2 linked regions of the Homo sapiens genome follow. The protein of the gene in region 1 interacts with the protein of each later gene in a pairwise test. Each region holds a gene or a part of one and is shown on either strand. Other genes may lie near its edges.

The links. Proteins that work in one complex are often made in the same cells at the same time.
Region 2: the proteins of TMEM41A (region 1) and LPAR3 interact in binary tests that used the Homo sapiens proteins (3 or more experiments, as listed by UniProt).

The regions. Positions count from the first base shown.
Region 1 is NC_000003.12:185,497,559-185,501,304, reverse strand, and holds the start of TMEM41A (transmembrane protein 41A precursor), read left to right. Parts: upstream 1-2,269; 5' UTR 2,270-2,343; coding exon 2,344-2,462; intron 2,463-3,746.
Region 2 is NC_000001.11:84,891,466-84,895,211, reverse strand, and holds the start of LPAR3 (lysophosphatidic acid receptor 3), read left to right. Parts: upstream 1-2,005; 5' UTR 2,006-2,196; intron 2,197-3,746. UniProt on the Homo sapiens protein: Receptor for lysophosphatidic acid (LPA), a mediator of diverse cellular activities. May play a role in the development of ovarian cancer. Seems to be coupled to the G(i)/G(o) and G(q) families of heteromeric G proteins.

The DNA of each region.
Region 1 (3,746 bases):
TAGAAATTTGCCAGGCAGAGAAGATTGACAGATGGCTAGAAGAGTGGTGTGATGGGGCATGAACTAACATGGTGTGTTCAGCTGGAATGGAGGGCTGACACCATTTTCCCCCATTTTCTTAAGTGGAAATTTGACACATACACAAGAATAGAAAAAAAAATAGTTTAACACCCAAATAGTATAAAACACCCAGGTGATCACCCAGCTTCAACAACTATCAGCTCATGGACAATCTTGTTCTACCTACATGCTTACTCACTAAACCCCCATACCATTATTTTGACACAAATCTCAGACATTGAATAATTTCATTTGTAAATAATTTTTGGTTCTACATGCTATAACAATTCTGTGAAAAAAATTTTAAATAAATAAATACTTTGGTATCTTAAAAAGTTAAAGTATATCCTCTTTTTGTCCTTAAAAAGGAGTGATACATAGCATACTCTAACACTGCAACTTGTTTGTTTTATTTGTATCTTAGCCATCTATCTGGTGACCACACTGTATCAGGATATGTAGAATTGCTTTCCTCTTTTAGGAGGCTACCTAGTATTCCATTTGTGAATAGTTAACCTAGCCAGTCACCAGCTGATGGGCATTTAGGTTGTTCCCAATCTCCTAACATAAAAACAAAGCTGAGAGAATACCCTTAAATATACATCTTTGCTACCTATGGGGATTCTTGGATGTGGAATTAAATTCCAGTACATTCTTGGATGTAGGTTACATTCTTGGACGTAGAATTGCTGAGATCTTGTGCACATGGATTCTGAAAGGTGCTCCCTATTTGGCCCAACAGGTGCTTTAAATGATAGGACAAGGATGCTTTCTCTCTGTTGTCCAGGCTTTTGACACTTTGGAGTTCTCTTTCTGTCCCTTCCTTCGTTTACTCAGTGACATATCATACCAATCCAACTACCCCCAGCCTCCTCCCTCCATGTCCACTGCTGTGGTCCTGGGTCAGGCCTGAGTGCTTTCTTTCTTTCTTTTTTGAGACAAAATTTCGCTCTTGTCGCCAAGGCTGGAGTGCAGTGGTGCAATGTCGGGAAAGTAACTGCAACCTCTGCCTTCCAGGTTCAAGCGATTCTCGTGCCTCAGCCTCCCGAGTAGCTGGGATTACAGGCACATGCCATCATGCTCGGCTAATTATTGTATTTTTAGTACAGACGGGGTTTCACCATGTTGGACAGGCTGGTCTCGAACTCCTGACATCAAGTGATCCGCCCGCCTGGGCCTCCCAAAATCCTCGGATTACAGGCGTGAGCCACCATGCCCAGCCAGGCCGGCGTACTTTCTTATCAGGACAGTTGTGGCTATCAAGTCAGCACGTATTCTAATCATCTGCCAAAGCGAACATCCTAAAACAGGAACGAAATCATTCTCTTACTTAAACACCTCTGTTGGTGTCTCATCTACATTATTAAAAATCTAACTCCTTAGCCTGCCTTCAGTGCACTCTTGTTTGTCCCCAGATTCTCACTTATTTCTCATATACCTTAGGCTTCACTGAAACTGGATTCTGGTGCCTTACCTGGGACCGTGTTCACCCATTCCCTTCTTTTTCTGCTTGAAGAAAAGTGTTGCTCATCCTTGAAGGTAAACTTAAACTCCATGTCCTCCATAAAGCCACACAGTGTTAAGGGCCACTGGTTTTGGACTCAGGTTGACTTGGATTCTTATACTGTCTCTCTTTTGGGGGGATGTCATTTAATTCTTCTGAAACTCAGAGTTTTCATCTGTTAGAGAAAGACAAAAATACCTACCTTGGAGGATGATTGTGAGGCTCAGGGATGCGGGAATATAGTAGGAGCTGAATTAAAAGCAATTCTGATTATTTCCGTGGTCACTATTGCCGCCCCACCGCACTTGATTGCAGCCCCTGGTGCTACACCAGCTACATTTGCTTTATGTGACAGCAGGTTGTGGACAAGACTGCCTTGATCTCTAGACTGCAAGCTCGCTGTGGGCCGGGCTCACGATTCACCCCCGGATCTCCCAGCCCTGGCACCAAGCCGGCACTGGGGGCGCGCCATGCCTGCAGAATAAGTGGGGAAAGCGACAGGGATAAACGTAGAAAAACAAGCACAGACAGACGGAGAGAGGGCAGACTGGGAGGCAGGTTTTTCCCGGAGTCTCCACCGAAGGACAGAGAGGGCGGAGTCAGAATCGGGGGCGGGGGCCTGGCTCAGGAGGTGGGGCCTGGTTCGGAGGCGGGTCTCGGCGCGGACCCCTCCCTGGTCCGTCAGTGAACGTGCTCCGCGGGCTCAGTCCGCCCGCCGCTGCGTCCCGGAGTGCAAGTGAGCTTCTCGGCTGCCCCGCGGGCCGGGGTGCGGAGCCGACATGCGCCCGCTTCTCGGCCTCCTTCTGGTCTTCGCCGGCTGCACCTTCGCCTTGTACTTGCTGTCGACGCGACTGCCCCGCGGGCGGAGACTGGGCTCCACCGAGGAGGCTGGAGGCAGGTGCGTGGCGGGAATCCGGGTTCGGGTCAGAGGAAGGGAGCCGGGTCCGAGGACCGGGGCTGGGAATCGGAGATTCGGAGATTCGGGTTCCGGTATCGGAGGCGTTGGGAATTGAGGTTCACTTATCGGACTGGAATCCGGGTCTGGTATCCGGGCCCGCGTCCGCACGGTCTCGGACAGAAGGGTGGATGGGAGCCCGGCTCCGGGCCTGACTGGGACCTGTGTGGTGCTGGCTGCAGGGTGTGCAGGGCGTCACGCCGCGGTGCCTTTGGTTGGGTGGATTTGCCGAGGGAGACGCGGCGCTGAGCCTGCCCGCGCCGTTGCTTTCCCAGTCCCAGCCCTGGGCCCCATTTCCAGCCCACCTTCGCCCCCGTGCGGGCCCCCAGCCTCTTCAAGTCCACTTTCAACTGTCTCTCCTCCTCCCCACCCCACTTACGTCAGGTCTGCCCTTGAGACTTTAGACATTAGATCTTCAGGAGAAATATTGCATAGACAACTTTAAATTATTCACGAATTAATTATCGACTCTGCCCGTCTTCCTGGTTGTCTCTACTTTTACCTTTTTTTTTTTTTTTTCTGAGACGGAGTCTTGCTCTGTCACCCAGGCTGGAGTGCAGTGGCGCGATCTCGGCTCACTTTAACCTCCTCCTCCCGGGTTCAAGCGATTCACCTGCCTCAGTTTCCCAAGTAATTGGGACTACAGGCGCGCGCCACCACGGCCGGCTAATTTTTGTATTTTTAGTAGGGACGCGGGGGGGGGGTCTCATTATGTTGGCCAGGCTGGTCTCGAACTCCTGACCTCAGGTAATCCGCCTGCCTCAGCCTCCCAAAGTGTTGGGATTACAGGCGTGAGCCATCGCGCCTGGCCTCCTTTTCCCCTTCTAATGAACGACTGGTCGAGGCAGGAGGCAGAGCAATACTTACCTGGCCGGTTTTTGTGAGTGCTGCATACTCTTTATAAAGTGCATGGAAGTGTGCCTAGTACAGCATTGCGTGGTTAAGGGAATTACTGATATTTGACTATTAAGGCAGCTGTTTTCAGTTACTGTATTCTTTTGCTGTAGCTAAGAAGGCTCTGCTGTGGGTGTCGGACATACCGAGAGAAACTCTCGTGAGAAGTAGGAGGGTTTGCTCATGATTAATCAGTGATGGATTCAAGGACTGTTCAGATGGCAGAGGCAAGATAGCCTTGCTACTATAACCCTTGGGCAGGATTCAAAGTGCATTGAGGACCAGATTAAGAGCAGAGTTAAATAGTAGGCTCTTTGAAAGGGTTCGATTCAA
Region 2 (3,746 bases), on another chromosome or scaffold:
AAACTAGGAATTGGGGGCCACATCTTTCTTTTTAGTTGTCGTTTGCCTCGTCTTTTCTTTTCCTGCTTCTCCCCATAGGTGTTTGTTTGTTTGTTTGTTTATCACTGCTTTTCCTCTCTGAATCTGTTTCTCTGTAACACCTTCTGGCCTTCCCCTCACATCTGACCCATCTAGCTGTTAAAAACCATCTATCTGGAAAGTCTCTTTCCTTTTGCAACACAGCTCCCCATGCCCTCTTCACTTTCCTCCTTTTTTAAGGATTCAGATTCAACTCTGTGGGATCCCTGTTCTGCTTTGCAATTACCTCGAGTTCAGGAAGTTCCCAAGGTACAACATAATGCAACATAATGTGTTTCCCAAGTGCCTTTGTTAGTAAGTTGTTTGGATTCAGAACAGATTTTCCCAGCAAAAGAAGGCTCTTAGTGGTGTTTACAGTCTAGCCTGCAACATCTTACTCAACATACTACACCTTTGTTGCGTCAAGTATTCAGTAAATGCTGGTGGTTGAGTATTTCTGTGTTTACCAGGTTGCCCTTCAGCACCGTGATGTTTGAGCTGAGCTGTTCTCTCCCTTGACAGAGAGAGCTCTTTCCGACCCCCGCCCCTCCGAGACGGAGTCTTGCTCTGTCGCCCAGGCTGGAGTGCAGTGGCGCGATCTCGGCTCACTGCAACCTCCGCCTCCCAGGTTCAAACGATTCTCCTGCCTCAGCCTCCAGAGTAGCTGGGATTACAGGTGCGTGCCACCACGCCCGGCTTTTTGTATTTTTAGTAGAGACGGGTTTTCACCATGTTTGCCACCGAGCTTTTTTATCATATGCAAAGCTTCTGCTTGTAAAAGTAAACACATGATCTTTCTTTAGCCCTAGCTTCGCAAGTTGTACTTCTCTCTACACAGTTCAACTGCAAGACACCGCAATAATTTTCTGAACACTTAGATGAAACAATAATTTTCACATGCTGATGAAAACTTAGCTGTAGCCCCGGGGAGGTTTGAGGCACATTAGGCTATTATGGTCTATAGGATAAGACCCACGGAGTAAGGGACGTAACCTTATTAAAACATCCTCTGCAGAGAAAACAGAATCTCTTTGATGGTAGGGGACAGATTATCTAACAGGTTGTTTGCAAGGATGAGGTTCCTAGCTGGCACACAGAAGGGCGCAGTATTAATGGTGAATGCAAGATGAATGAATGAACGGATGGATGGATGGCAAAGGGTCACAGGAAGACATCTGGGCACACAACTCTCATTGCTTCCTAAGGGCCTGAAGTCTGAGTGGGAAGGACTTCACCTCACAGTATTTCCTTTTTGTAAGGTCACCAGGAAAGCACAACTTTGAACATTTCTGTGACTTCGTTATTGCTTTGCAGAATTCAGAGAGAACAATGCCTTCATGACATTTGTTTTACTTTGCATCTTTCTTCTTTACTAAAGGTGGGTCAGTGGAGGTTTTATATTTCAGCTTTGAAAAACAAAGTATCCAGGACTATTTGCCCCAGGAGGCCAAGAAACCTCTTACAAGAACCTTAAATATTGTTGGTTGCCTCTGGGGGCTGTCCGCACCCTCGGGTAGCTTTGGGGTTGAGGTTTCCAGCGTTAGGTCGGGCTTGGAGTAGAGCCTGCCTCCCACGGGGGTGGTGGGTGTGGGCTGCACTTCCCGCAGCCACTTCAAACAAATCTCTGAGGACAGAGGGGCAGAGGGACTGCGTTCTAATACGGAGCTCCGAGGTATGGCTCCGTGAGGCTTGTGGGTACTAGCGGTCCTTTAGTGGGCGCTTTTCCCTCTCGGGGCCGGCCGACCACCCACCTGGGGACGATCCCAGGCAGGAACGCGTCTGCAAGAGCGCTGCCCTCCCGCGGCTCGCACGGGCCCCTTTGAGCGCAGCTCGCGGCCTTGCAGGTTGGGGACGCTCTCCAGTGGGAACGTCGAACGCACCCGGCGGGGCGGGGCGGGGCAGGGAGGGGCCGCTGTCCCTAGGTCCCTCCCTCGCACCGCCAAACTTTCCTTTGGCTCTGGACGCGTCGCAGGGGTCGCTGGAGAGGAGGCGCTCCGCCCGCCCGCCGCGTCCTCCGCTGCTTCTCCGCGCCCGGCTGGAGCCCGGCGCCCGGTCGCCCCGTCGCGCTCGACCCCGAGGGCATGCGGCAGCCGCAGGGGCCCCCGCTCCCGGGCTCGGCGGCGCGGGTGAACGTGAGCGGTGAGTGAGGGTCCGGGCGCAGGGAGGGTACCCCGAGCCGCAGTCACCAGGGCGTGCGTCGTGGGGAGGCCGGGGCGCAGCGGCGCCTGCAGGGCTCTAGCCTGCGGCTTTTCGGGGTTGCCTGGCGTGCAAGCCTGGGCTCCAGACCCACTCCAAACCCCGGGACAAGACTCTCCCGGCGGGTGTATGGCACAACTTGCTCTTTTCCCACCTTTTTCCCCGCTAGGAGCAAAAAGCAATCTAGATGCAAAATCGGCGTTGCGTCCGCTGCTGAGGGCTGGCGGGCTGGGCGCAGAGGCCAGGAGAGCGCCGCACGGGTTGCGTCTGCCTTTGCACACGTGGTTCTTTCCAAACTCAGTCTCATTGCCATCGATGGTGATTAGGAAACTGGGGTTCTCTCGTGAAGCCTAGGGATATAACATTTTTCAGCCTCCAGTTACATCTGGTACTGTGCTGTGTCCGCTGGGGAACAGCTTGAACCATGTGCAGGCTTCTAGAGATTCGGGAACTAGTAACTAGCAACACTGTCGGGGTTGTTTGTTCAGGGTATGCCCCCTCACCACCACGAGACAAAAGTGCTTTTGTTCTGTAGCAGAGTTACTTTATTGCTTTCCCTCAACAAGTTGCAGCTACACAAAATTGCTTAGAAATTCCGCACGCATGTAATTTGAGGAGTGACTGTGAATATTGGAAACAATTTAGTCTTATTAAGGTAATCATTAAAATGGCCCTGAAAAGCATTTGTAGGTTAGTTTTTATTTATTTATTTATTTATTTATTTATTTATTTATTTATTTATTTTTGAGACACAGTCTCGCACTATCATCCGGGCTGGAGTGCAGTGGCGCGATCTCGGCTCACTGCAACCTCCGCCTCCCAGGTTCGAGCGATTCTCCTGCCTCAGCCTCCCTAGTAGCTGGGATTGCAGGCGCCCACCACCACGCTAGGCTAATTTTTTGTATTTTTAGTAGAGACGGGGTTCCACTGTGTTGGCCAGGCTGATCTCGAACGCTTGACCTCGTGATCCACCCTCCTCAGCATCCCAAAGTGCTGGGATTACAGGTGTGAGCCACTGCGCCCGGCTAGGTCAGTTTTTTAAACTGAGTAATTTCCACGAAATGTTTCCCCCGTAATTTGTTATTGTCATTACAACGCTTTTCTTCCTCCTTTTCCTCCGAAAGTAGCATTACCTGGTCTTGAGATGCCGTTTAGAAATAAAGGGCTTTCTCACGGTTCCAACTTAGTCTGTATCAGAGAATAAAGTAAATGTCAATTACAGACAGACAATCAATCTCCTCTTTACAAATTCCATGTACCGCACAACGTTTCATTAATGCATGGACTTTTGTATCGCTGAGAAGAGTTGCTGGATTTTCCATTGATCCATCAACAGTTGCTAACCCTGCTTTCCATGGGCAGTGGATCTGATATTTAGTGGCCTGAGTCCAGTAAACAGAGTTTTCCTCTTTTTGGGACAGAAGTGATACGGTTAGAAACACACACCTTGGCTCTGTTAACCCCAGGCTTGTCTAAACAAACTGGACTATACT